Linked DNA regions of Homo sapiens. The protein of the gene in region 1 purifies or fractionates together with the protein of each later gene. This does not show direct contact. Each region holds a gene or a part of one and is shown in the gene's direction. Other genes may lie near its edges.

Region 1 (3,751 bases):
TAGAGTGTAGTGGCGGGATCTTGGCTCACTGCAAACTCTGCCTCCCAGGTCCAAGTGTTCTTCCCACCTCAGCCTCCTGAGTAGCTGGGACCATAGATGCAAGCCACCACATCTGGCTAATTTTTGTATTTTTTTATAAAGATGAGGTTTCGCTATGTTGCCCAGGCTGGTCTCAAATTCCTGAGCTCCAGCAATCTGCCTGCCTCCCAAAGTATTGTGATCACAGGCATGAGCCACTGAGCCTGGCCTTTTTCATTTATTTATTTAATTTTTACAGACAGGGTCTCACTCTGTTGCCCAGGCTGAAGTGCACTGCATGATCATAGCTCACTGCAGTTTCAAACTGCTGGGCCCAAGGGATCCTCCTGCCTCAGCCTCCTGAGTATCTGAGACTACAGGCACACACCACCATACCTGGGTTTTTTTTTTTTTTAATGTTTTATTTTAGAGACAGGGGTCTTGCTATGTTGCCCAGGATGGTTTTGAACTCCTGGCCCCATTGATCCTCCTGCCTTGGCCTCCCAAAGCTCTGACATTACATGTGTGAGCCACCTTGCCCGGCCTTGAGTAATTTTATTTTACCGCAGTAGACATCTCCTTGAAGGCAAATGTTTCCCCCAATTCCTAGCACCATATTTGGCACACAATAGGAGCTTAATAAAATTTGCCATAAGAATTAATGCTCAGAAACTCTACTATTACATCCTATCTGCTCAACTCCCTGGAAAAGAGACATTCTCTTTTTATGGTTACTATAAAAGGCCCAGATTAGTATTTCACTGGCCTAACTTGGATCACATGCTCATCCCTGAACCAATCAATGAGGCTGAAGGGATGAAATATGCTAATTGGCCAGGTCTGGTCATGTGTCCATTTTTGGAGCCAGGGGAGTGGGGAGGGCTATTTTCCTGAACTGAAATAGGGTGAACTGGTTCCCTGAAGACTAACCAAGACGCTAATGCAAAGAAGGACACTCCTGCTGGGCAGACAAAAATGACAGAGGCTCAGAGAAGTAAAATAACTTGCCCAAGGGCCATAGAGCTTTAAGCAGTAGCGTCTTTTTTTTTTTTCCAATCTTGCTTTGGGCTTGGACAGACTAGTTCAGCATCTTTGATCTTCCCTTCCTGCCTGACGGCCCCAGGGTCAGAATTCCAGGTGCAATTTTGTCTTGCCAAAAGCTGGAGTTTACTCTCTTTGGGGTTTATAAATAAGGAAAAAAGTTCTTTGGAGAGCCTGAACTTTGAAATCAGAGAAGTCTGGATTTACTGCTGGCTCTGCCTTTTCTAGCTGCCTCACCTGGGGCATGTCATTATCTCTATAAGCCTCAGTTTTGTTCTTTTTTCTTTTTTATTTTTTTGTTTTTGTTTTTTTGCGACGGAGTCTCATTCCTTCACCCAGGCTGGAGTGTAGTGGCGCGATCTCGGCTCACTGCAACCTCTGCCTCCAGGGTTCAAGCGATTCTCGTGCCTCAGCCTCCAGAGTAGCTGGGACTACAGGCGCGCCCGGCTGCTTTTTTGTATTTTTACTAAAGACAGGGTTTTACCGTTTTGGCCAGGCTGGTCTCGAACTCCTGACCTCAGGTGATCTGCCGGCCTCGGCCTCCCAAAGTGCTGGGAAGATGGAATGAGAGAAATCCCTCAAAACATGTCATTGTTACTACTTTTCTATCTAGAATGTGTGAAATTTCTAAAATTTCACTAACAAAGTATCTGGAAGGACCTAATATTAAAGTGTTCACAGTAGCTATTAGTTTTAATTCGTTTTCTTTTTTATACCTTAGCCACTCTACCACTCATGCCACAGGTATTTATTAAGCATCTACTGTGTGCCACCCAGGCCCTGTGTCAAGAGTTAGGAATAACTAAAGGAGATACTAATTTTAAAACTACACAAATAATTGCAATCGTCATACGTGCCTGTTTTTACAAAGCAGAAATCAGGAAAAACAAAGTATTTCCGATAAAAAATATTTTAAGGTTATGGATAGAGATACATACAAACAAGCGATGGGCTTGGATCACTAATGATTTTGGAAAGGACAGGAATACAGGAACTAAGCGAGAAGCAGGCGAGAATGGCGAGGCGCGGCGGGAGAGGACGGAAGTTGGTCACTCCCTCGAATTGCCCCCTCGCTGCCGGATGCTAGGCCAGCCTTGAGCAGGAGAACCGGACACTGTGTACTCAGCAGGGGGAGCCAAGACTTAGCGCTAACCATTGCACCTGGGGCTGGGAGCCAGCGCCGGAGCCAGGAGGCCCGCTAGGCGGCTGCAGGCGCTGTGATGGCCACCTGGGGGCGGCCACGTGAGCGCCACGCCGTGCGCCCGCCAGGCCAGCCCCGCCCCTGCCCGCCCGCTTCTGCTCAACCTAGACCAGCCCCAGCTTCAGCCTCAGCTCCCCTCCTTCCTGGATCGAGCGCCCGCACTCCCGGCCCTGCAGCCACCCGAGTCCCGCTCGCTGTCGCCTGCACGCGAGTCCCCCCTGGCACGCGCTCCCACATCCCGGGATCGTCCCAACGGCCCCTGCGCCCTTCCTGGGATCACTCCGACTGCCCCGCGCGCCCTGGGATCGGTCCATCTACCCCGCGTGGCCCCAGCTGCTTGCCCGGAGCGCCAGCTAGCGCTCCCCGCTCTCCGCTCCCCGGCACTCTCGGGGGGCCCGCCCGCCCTGCACCCTGGAGCTCCGGGCCGCGAGCCTCTGCCAACTCCTCTGGACCCTCGCGGCCGTGGGCAGCGGCTGCCGCGCCTGTCTGCCCGAGGGAGGTAGGTGTGGACCGCGGCCGGCAAGGCTGTGGGGGGCTGGGAGCCCGCGCTGCAGGCCTGTGCGCCCGGGTGCAGCTGGCGTCTGGAGCGTGCTGGGTCTGGGCTTGGGAATGGGGCCGGAGAAGGCATGGAAGGAGAGTGTGGGGGCGCTTCTCCTCTGGTTGTTAAACTCTCTGGGGCTAAGTGCTTGCTTTGGAGAAATGGGGAAGTTGTGCGGATTAAAGGCGATGTGGATATGGAAAGCAATTGGCAAGCAATGGGCGGTGATCTGGCTGCAAGTGACAGAGAGTTTGGGGGCCTCCCCCCTCGGGGCCCCTAGAGTGTGGGCGCATCGCTGCCTTCCTGTCCCCTGCAGGGCTCAGAGCCGCATCCCCCACCTTTCCCCTGAACTAGAGGCCTGCGTCAGCCCGAATTCCCGGAACCTCCAGGACTGTATAGACGCGCCCTTGCTGCATTGTTGGCTGCGGGAGTTTGTTGGCAGGCGCTGCTGACATGTGTGCCAAGGGGCTGGGCATTAATAAGCCGGTGGCCGCGCGGGGGTGGGGGCCTCCCGGGTAAGCCCCGGCCTAGATCCTTTTGCGCGCGCCTGGGGGATTTCGGGGAACCAGCCCAGCTGCGCCCTGAGTGTGACAGATGGGCCGCATGGGGAAGTGAGATCTGCCCAGGGGGACGGTCCCAGGGAGCCCGACCTCTGGGACCTCGGTGGTGGGTGCTTCTTCAGCCAGGAAAGCAGGAAACACTAGGGCTGGAGTCCTGGGTTGGAATTCTAGCTCATTTATGCTCTCTGGCCCTCGGTTTTCTCATCGGTAAAATGGGTACAGTATTAGTATCTACCACTTAGTATCCTTGGAAAGAGTAGATGAGTATGTATATGTCAGGTGCTTGGAACAGTGCCTGGCACACAGTGTCATAGTCTATGGCCCCGGGAGACATCTGATGGCCAAGAGCCCTGTGGTTGAGGGCCCTGGACAGGCTGTGAAGTCACAGCGAAT
Region 2 (3,751 bases), on another chromosome or scaffold:
TTGGTGTAGAGTTCAAAAGTTTGGACCCGAAAGCCAGCCTGCTAGGGTTCCTATACTGGCTCTGCCACTTTCTAACTAGAGGATCTCAGGAAGGTCATTTCACTTCCTATGCTTTGGTTTCCTCATCTGTTCAAGGTGGATGCTGTTAAACCCACCCTGTAGGATTGTTGGGAAGCCTAAATAGCACATATTAAAGGCACACTGCATGTTGGCTGTTAGTGTTGCTGTCTGTGGATCGAGGGGTTGAACAGTTGATCATGCAGGGGAAAGTACCTCGTTCCAGCAGTTGGACGATAATTAACTAGTGTGATTGTAGGCTGGTTATTTAACCTATCTAAGCCCCATTTTTCACCTGTATATGCACAAAGTTAGATTATCAGTGTCTCTCAACTATTGGCATTTGGGGCAGGAGAATTCATTGTGCAGAATGTTCAGCATCCCTGGGACCCAGTAAATGCCCATAACACCTTCTCAGTCCTTGTAACAACCCAGATACTCCCCTTTGCCATTGCTTCTGTACAGGTTCCCCTGGAGAGGAGCCCTTGGAACTAAATGATTTGTAGGGTCCTTTTAAGCTGGAAGTATTTGGGGCTGTAAGTCCAGGATTGTTATGGGGACTCAATATAATTAATAATGTGAAGGTGCATTATAAACTGTAAAGTGCGGCACCCAGGGAAAGGAGTATGGTGATATTGTCTCATTACTATTGAGGATGGAGGGAATTAGGAGGCCTTGGTTCTGTGGGCGTTATCTGGAGAGGAGGGCTAGAGTCAGATGTGGAGGGATCGTGTACGTGGGGAAGAGCCTGCTGGGGTGTGATGAATGCTAGGTCAAGGGTGGCAAATGCTGTCTCTGAGAGTCGCACACTAACTCCACTTGGTTAATAGCGACTGCTGTGGTGTTGTGTTGAGTAGGACACTGATTCCCTACAATGCCCAGGTTAGCAATATCCACCTGGGCATAGGAATAGGGAGTAGTGGCCTGCCTGCCATCTATTTGTCATCCCTGTCCTAGATAGCAAGACATCTTAGGATTTGCAAGAGTCATAATAATTCAGAGAAAGATGTTCAGATCAATATGGGCTGGAGAAATACTAAGGGCTGTCCCTAAAGCTCTTTGGACCTAAAGCACACTGACATCTCGTGTCCAAGTATCCCACACAGCAGCCCAGAGGTAGACAGGTCACAGGAAACTGAGGCCTGGAGGATACACAAGACCTGTAATGAAGTGATTAGGAGCATAAACTCTGAAGTCACATTGTCTAGATTCAAATTCTGACTCTTCTTCATAGCAGTGTGACCTTGGACAAGTTACTCAATGTCTCTGTGCCGGTTTTTTCATCTGTAAAATGACAATAATAATAATACCTATCTTACAGAGTTGTTATGAGGATTCAGTGAGTTAATATGTGTAAAGTGCTTAGAACAGTAACCAGCACATAGTACTCAATAAATGTTTGCTGTGACTAAGTATAAAATGTAGTCCAAGTTTCCTGGCAGCCAAAGCAAAGAAGGAACTTGATTAATTACATAACTCTTCTTTTTGGAAAGGAGAATGTGCACCTGTTCCTTAGGAGAGATTAAGTGGCTTCTGATACTAAATTCTGCAAGAAATATCCTGTGTGGGTAATAATTTAGGAGCCCCTGGGTGATGATAATGAACAATGTCCGTAACAATGGTTTTACAGTCATGGAAAAGTAGAATTTATAGCTCACAGTCAACTCAGTGGCAGAATGAGGCAAAAATCCTGACTCCCAGCTCAGCCTTTGTATGATCCCTGGACTAACAAGACTGGACTTGAGCTTTGGCAGAAGTTGGGGGTTGGGTGGGCTGAAGTGGGAGTTGGGGTACACCCTCCTGCTCTGAGGGCAGAGGGAAAAGATTAGGGTGAGGCTCAGCATATTTGACTTTCTAGAATCATGGGTTCTGATGGTGGGCACCTTTGGACAGCAGGACTAAACCTGGGCCTTTCCCTTGGTCACCTGTGATCACTTTCTTTCCCTCAGGGGGATGACCCCGGGAGAAGCAGAAATCCACTTCTTAGAGAATGCCAAGAAGCTTTCCATGTACGGAGTAGACCTGCACCATGCCAAGGTACCACCAGCTTCCTGGGTTCCCCTAGTGTCTGGGTGGTGCCCCCAAAGAACTATCAGGCCTTTCCCTAGGGCGTGGTGTGCCAGACCCTGTGTTACCTCCAACTTGAAACCTTTTCTGTTCTCATTCTCATTTCTCGAAGTTCCATAACCTTTTATTTTCTCATGATCTGTATTATTTTCTCCATGTATTTTATTTATGAACCTGTTTGAGCCACTGCTAGATTGGGAGCATTGTGAGGGAAAGACGTAGGCCTTAGTTTATTTCTATATCCCTAGCACCTGGCACATAGCCTGGCACCAAGTGTGTGCCACTAAATATTTGCTGGATGAATGAACGATTGAGTGATTGACAGAGCAAATGATCAAACAAGTGAGTGGGTGAAAAAAATACCTAAATGGATGAGTGAATGACTGAATGACTATGGGAGGGATTGGTCAGTGGGACTCCAGCATGGAGGCTCTAACCCTGTTCCTGAGAGCTCGTTACAAGCAGCGCACAGGGCAGTGTTTTCGGGGTGGGTGGTAGGCTGTCCCCAGGCATGGACCCCGGGCCTCCCATTCCATGGTCTCTTCTCATGCAGGACTCTGAGGGCATCGACATCATGTTAGGCGTTTGTGCCAATGGCCTGCTCATCTACCGGGACCGGCTGAGAATCAACCGCTTTGCCTGGCCCAAGATCCTCAAGATCTCCTACAAGAGGAGTAACTTCTATATCAAGATCCGGCCTGGGGAGGTGAGTCTGCCTTGGGAAACACTCCTCCTCACCGGAATCAACTAGAATGGAGTGGACCCTGGCAGCTGGGCCTGGACTGCCAACACACACACACACACACACACACACACACACACACACACACACACACACACACACACACAGAGAGAGAGAGAGAGAGAGAGAGAGAGGAGTCTAAATAAAAGTATAACCACATATGGCCAGGTGCAGTGGCTCATGCCTGTAATTCCAGCACTTTAGAAGGCCGAGGAAGGTGGATCACATGAGGTCAGGAGTGTGAGACCAGCCTGGCCAACATGGTGAAACCCCGTCTCTACTAAAAATACAAAATTAGCTGGCACTGCACTCCAGCCTGGGCAACAGAGCAAGACTCTGTCTCAAAAAAAAAAAAAAGGGAGAAAAAAAAAAGAAGAAATATAACTACATACATTCAGGTCACACAGATAAATGAATACATGTCTGTGTAAAGTTCATGTATTTAGGTGTTGTAAGTATGGAAGTTTGTACACATTTTAAGATACACAGACTCGACTATACATACAACACACACAAATGCAAACATGTATATGTCTACACCTCTTTTCCTTCAATTACCTACATCTCACCCATCAAAAAGCCCATTTGGTTGTACCTGTAGAATAAACATGAACCCATTTGCTTCTCTTCCTCTCCATCACACCCGCCTCCAGCATCCCCCATCTTTTGCCTGTGCCTATGAGGGCCTTCTCCCTCGCCTCTGGTGCTCTCCAGGTCATTTTCCTCATAGCTGCTGGAGAGATCTTAAAAAGTCCCTTAAATCAGATCATGGCAAGCCCACTCCCCCTTCCCATCCACACCCTTGCTTACACCTTTCAGGAACTCTCTTTAGCTCTTGAGCTAAACTTCAAACTCCTTCCATGGCCACCTACCTCTCCCACCTAT
Region 3 (3,751 bases), on another chromosome or scaffold:
TGGGAAACTGGCGTTTACTGTTTTTTCCTTGGGGATGTGCCTGCATTATTGTTACTGTTAAGTTATACTTGATTGGTCTGAATTGTGCAGCATTAGGAGTGATATTTTTGTCTTTGAAAGCTCTATATAACAGCTCATGAACACTTTTCAAAAGACGGGAAATTTATAGAGGAGAAGAAAAGACTGTCACAGCGAGTGTTTAGACAGTGAGACTGACTGTTTTCAAACAAATCTAATTCATTATATGCCTGGTAATGAAGACATATTAATAACAGAGAAAACAGCCCCATTATCTATGTGCTTCCGTGAACCAGTTTATTTTGTTTATATCAGTGGGCAGGACACCATCTGTTACCAGAAATTTTCTTTTCATCAAGCCTGCCCCGATTAAGAGTCCTCAGTTAAGTAACATCAGCTGCCCTCTTGTTTAATTTCCATAACTCAATTCAGGGGTATGGAGAGAAAAAGGCAGCTATAAGAGGATATTGTAAATTACACCATGCCCTCTGAGGATTTAATTTGGTCATCTCCTTGGCAAGAAAAATTAGCGGGAGGAGCTTATGTATGTCGGAGAAAAAGAGTGAAGAGAAGGGGGCAGAACTAATGATAGATGAAATAGCTTTAAGGAAATTGTTTAGTAGGATTAAAAAAATTTTTTTTGCAGCTTTTTGGTGACTTTTTGTTTGCTCACATTGTCTTTTTCTAAGGTATATTTTAATTATTTAGATACAGGCAGTGATGGGTTCTGTTCCATAATAACCTACTTTCAGGACTAGGAAATATATCTTAATATAGTGGTATGTATATGTTCATGTGTTTAAAATACAGTGAATATATAAATGTTACTGTAAATGATGACACTATAACACTGAAAGAATTTTATGTTTTTATTCTATCAAAGGTCCATGACTCCAGCTCAGGCTGACTTGGAGTTTCTTGAGAATGCCAAAAAGTTGTCTATGTATGGAGTTGATCTTCATAAAGCAAAGGTAATGATAACTTTGCCCTTTATTAATATGCATGTGGAAGATATTATATGATACATGTCTGTTATGTATGTATCACATCTGTGTCATATAATACTTTTTAACAACATCTGGGGTATTTTAAAACATTCAAAAGAGATAGTAGACTGGGCACAGCAGCTCATGCCTGTAGTCCCAGCTACTGGGGAGGCTGAGGCGGGAGGATCACTTGAGTCCAGGAGATCGAGCGTACAGTGAGCCCTGATTGTGCCACTGCACTCCAGCCCTGGCGACAGAGCAAGACCCCGTCTCAAAAAAAAAAAAGAGAGAGAAATAGTACTTCTTGTTAGCTTTTTTTTGTTTTGTTTTGTTTTTTTGAGATGGAGCCTTGCTCTGTCTCCCAGGCTGGAGTGCAGTGGCATGATCTCGGCTCACTGCAAGCTCCGCCTCCCAGGTTCACGCCATTCTCCTGCCTCAGCCTCCTGAGTAGCTGGGACTACAGGCGCCAGCTACCACGCCTGGCTAATTTTTGTATTTTTAGTAGAGACGGGGTTTCACCGTGGTCTCGATCTCCTGACCTCGTGATCCGCCCGCCTCGGCCTCCCAAAGTGCTGGGATTACAGGCGTGAGCCACCGTGCCCGGCCTCTTGTTAGCATTTTAAGTGTATCAGTTAAATCAGTCAACTGTATCAATTGAATTTGCCCCATAGCAATTCCACCCTCAGAATAAAGTTTCATATCCAAGCTACTGTTAAGATCAAAAGATAGCCCCTAGAGAAAAAGAAATTGATTTTCCTAACATGCAGTAACATTTGAAAATATAGAGCAGTGGGCAGCAAGTCCTGTTTCACAGCCAGCATCACCTACATCGAATCACTGAGGATGTTCATTAAATATGTAGATCCCTGAGCTTCTCTCAGATGTATGGAATTAATTTGGAGGCGAGGTTCTAGAATGTCTTGGTTTAATGAGCACCCAAATGATTCTAATTCATGCCTGAATCTGAGAACCACTGGCCTAGAGTAGTGGTTCTCAAAGTATGGTGTCTGAGCCAGCAACATTTAACATCACCTAGGAACTTGTTAGAAATGCACATTTCAGGCCCCATCCCAGGCCTGCTGAGTTAGACTCTCTGGAGGTGGAGCTCAGCAATCCATTTTAAGTTCTCCAGGTTGTTCTGATGCACACTGAATGAACCACAGTGGCTCATTCAAAAACCACTTGGGTAGGGCCCTGGAAACTTGAGCTTTAATCCTAGTTCTACCTAATACAGCCTAACAGAATGAATCCTTAAGGAAAGTCTCCTTACTTCTCTCTTCTTCAGCTACTAAAGTTGCTGGGGAGGTCCAGTGCCAGGCGTGGTGGCTCACACCTGTAATCCCAACAATTTGGGAGGCTGAGGCGGCCGATCGCTCAAGCTCAGGAATTCAAGACCAGACTGGGGAACATGGTGAAATCCCGTCTCCATAGAAAATACAAAAAATTAGTCAGGCATGGTGGCACGTGCCTTTGGTGGTCCCAGCTACTCAGGAGGCTGAGGTGGGAGGATTGCTTGAGCCCAGGAGGTAGAGGCTGCAGTGAGCCTAGATTGCACCACTGCACTCCAGCCTGGGTGACAGTTGAGACTCTGTCTTAAAAAAAAAAAAAAAAAAGAAAAAAGTTGTTCTGGATTATTTTGGGCTGGGTACTACAACTTCTATGAATCTCTAAAGTATATTGTAGGAAGATCAGTACATCAGATTAGGTATGTTTCTAAAACTGAAATGGTTAGATTTTGCTTCACAATTCCTGCTGGAAGCTGGTGTCAATTCAGGTATTGATGGAGTCAGGCAGCATGTTCCCTTCCCAAATATTGTAAAGCAAATTGTTTCTCCAAAGTGAAATGTAGTTATACCCACAAGCTTTAAAAATTTAAGAGGGCATCTTCTGGGAAATTCTCAGTTACATAGTCACTGAATTGGAACTGTATGTAATTCCTGCTTCTCTGTTATAACACGTGTAGGCACTAATATATTTCTCTATACTCATTTTGGGGGAAAGAGTAGTCAAGAAGCATTTAACTTTGTGTTTTGATTACTTAGCTAAACAAACTGTTAGCTGTAGGGACTAACTTAGGTGAAATTTATTTTCTTTGAATTATAGACATAGATGATTAATATTACATATTTAATTTTTTAAAGTTGTCTTTAATAAAGAGGCATATAAATATGATTTCATTGTGCCTTAATGTAACTTCTTGACTTAGGGATCATATTTTTAATTTAATATACTTAACATCAATTTTAAGAACCTAAGATTGTCTTATGCTGAGTTTATATAGGAATAGAGTCAACTCCTACATTTAACATCATTTCTGGAGCTGTTAACACTTTATCATAAAAAAACAAGAATTAATAATTGTGCGTGTATATTTGGTAGTATACATAGCTCTAAGCCCTGCTCTCCAGGAAGTCATGACTGCTGATTTAAACATAATAGGTCCATAAATTATAACTGTTAGGCTGAGCTTTATTTTTCATTGTATGTTTTGTAACTGTTTTTGGTTGTTATCTTCAGATTATCTAGTAATAGTCAACAGTGTATTGAGTACTTTGCTCCAGACTGAAATCCTAACATTTTTCTTTTTCAGGACTTGGAAGGAGTAGATATCATCCTAGGTGTCTGCTCTAGTGGCCTTCTGGTTTACAAAGATAAGCTGAGAATTAACCGCTTCCCTTGGCCCAAAGTGCTGAAGATTTCTTATAAACGTAGTAGCTTTTTCATCAAGATTCGGCCTGGAGAGGTAC

Evidence for each region.
Region 2: the proteins of EEF2K (region 1) and EPB41L1 purify together in Homo sapiens (affinity purification with mass spectrometry; 2 studies listed by BioGRID and IntAct, with this or other methods). This does not show direct contact.
Region 3: the proteins of EEF2K (region 1) and EPB41 purify together in Homo sapiens (affinity purification with mass spectrometry; 2 studies listed by BioGRID and IntAct, with this or other methods). This does not show direct contact.

What each region holds. Positions count from the first base shown.
Region 1 is NC_000016.10:22,203,921-22,207,671, forward strand, and holds the start of EEF2K (eukaryotic elongation factor 2 kinase), read left to right. Parts: upstream 1-2,357; 5' UTR 2,358-2,759; intron 2,760-3,751. UniProt on the Homo sapiens protein: Threonine kinase that regulates protein synthesis by controlling the rate of peptide chain elongation.
Region 2 is NC_000020.11:36,185,670-36,189,420, forward strand, and holds part of EPB41L1 (band 4.1-like protein 1), read left to right. Parts: intron 1-2,006; coding exon 2,007-2,094; intron 2,095-2,677; coding exon 2,678-2,830; intron 2,831-3,751. UniProt on the Homo sapiens protein: May function to confer stability and plasticity to neuronal membrane via multiple interactions, including the spectrin-actin-based cytoskeleton, integral membrane channels and membrane-associated guanylate kinases.
Region 3 is NC_000001.11:29,029,499-29,033,249, forward strand, and holds part of EPB41 (protein 4.1), read left to right. Parts: intron 1-901; coding exon 902-989; intron 990-3,594; coding exon 3,595-3,747; intron 3,748-3,751. UniProt on the Homo sapiens protein: Protein 4.1 is a major structural element of the erythrocyte membrane skeleton. It plays a key role in regulating membrane physical properties of mechanical stability and deformability by stabilizing spectrin-actin interaction. Recruits DLG1 to membranes.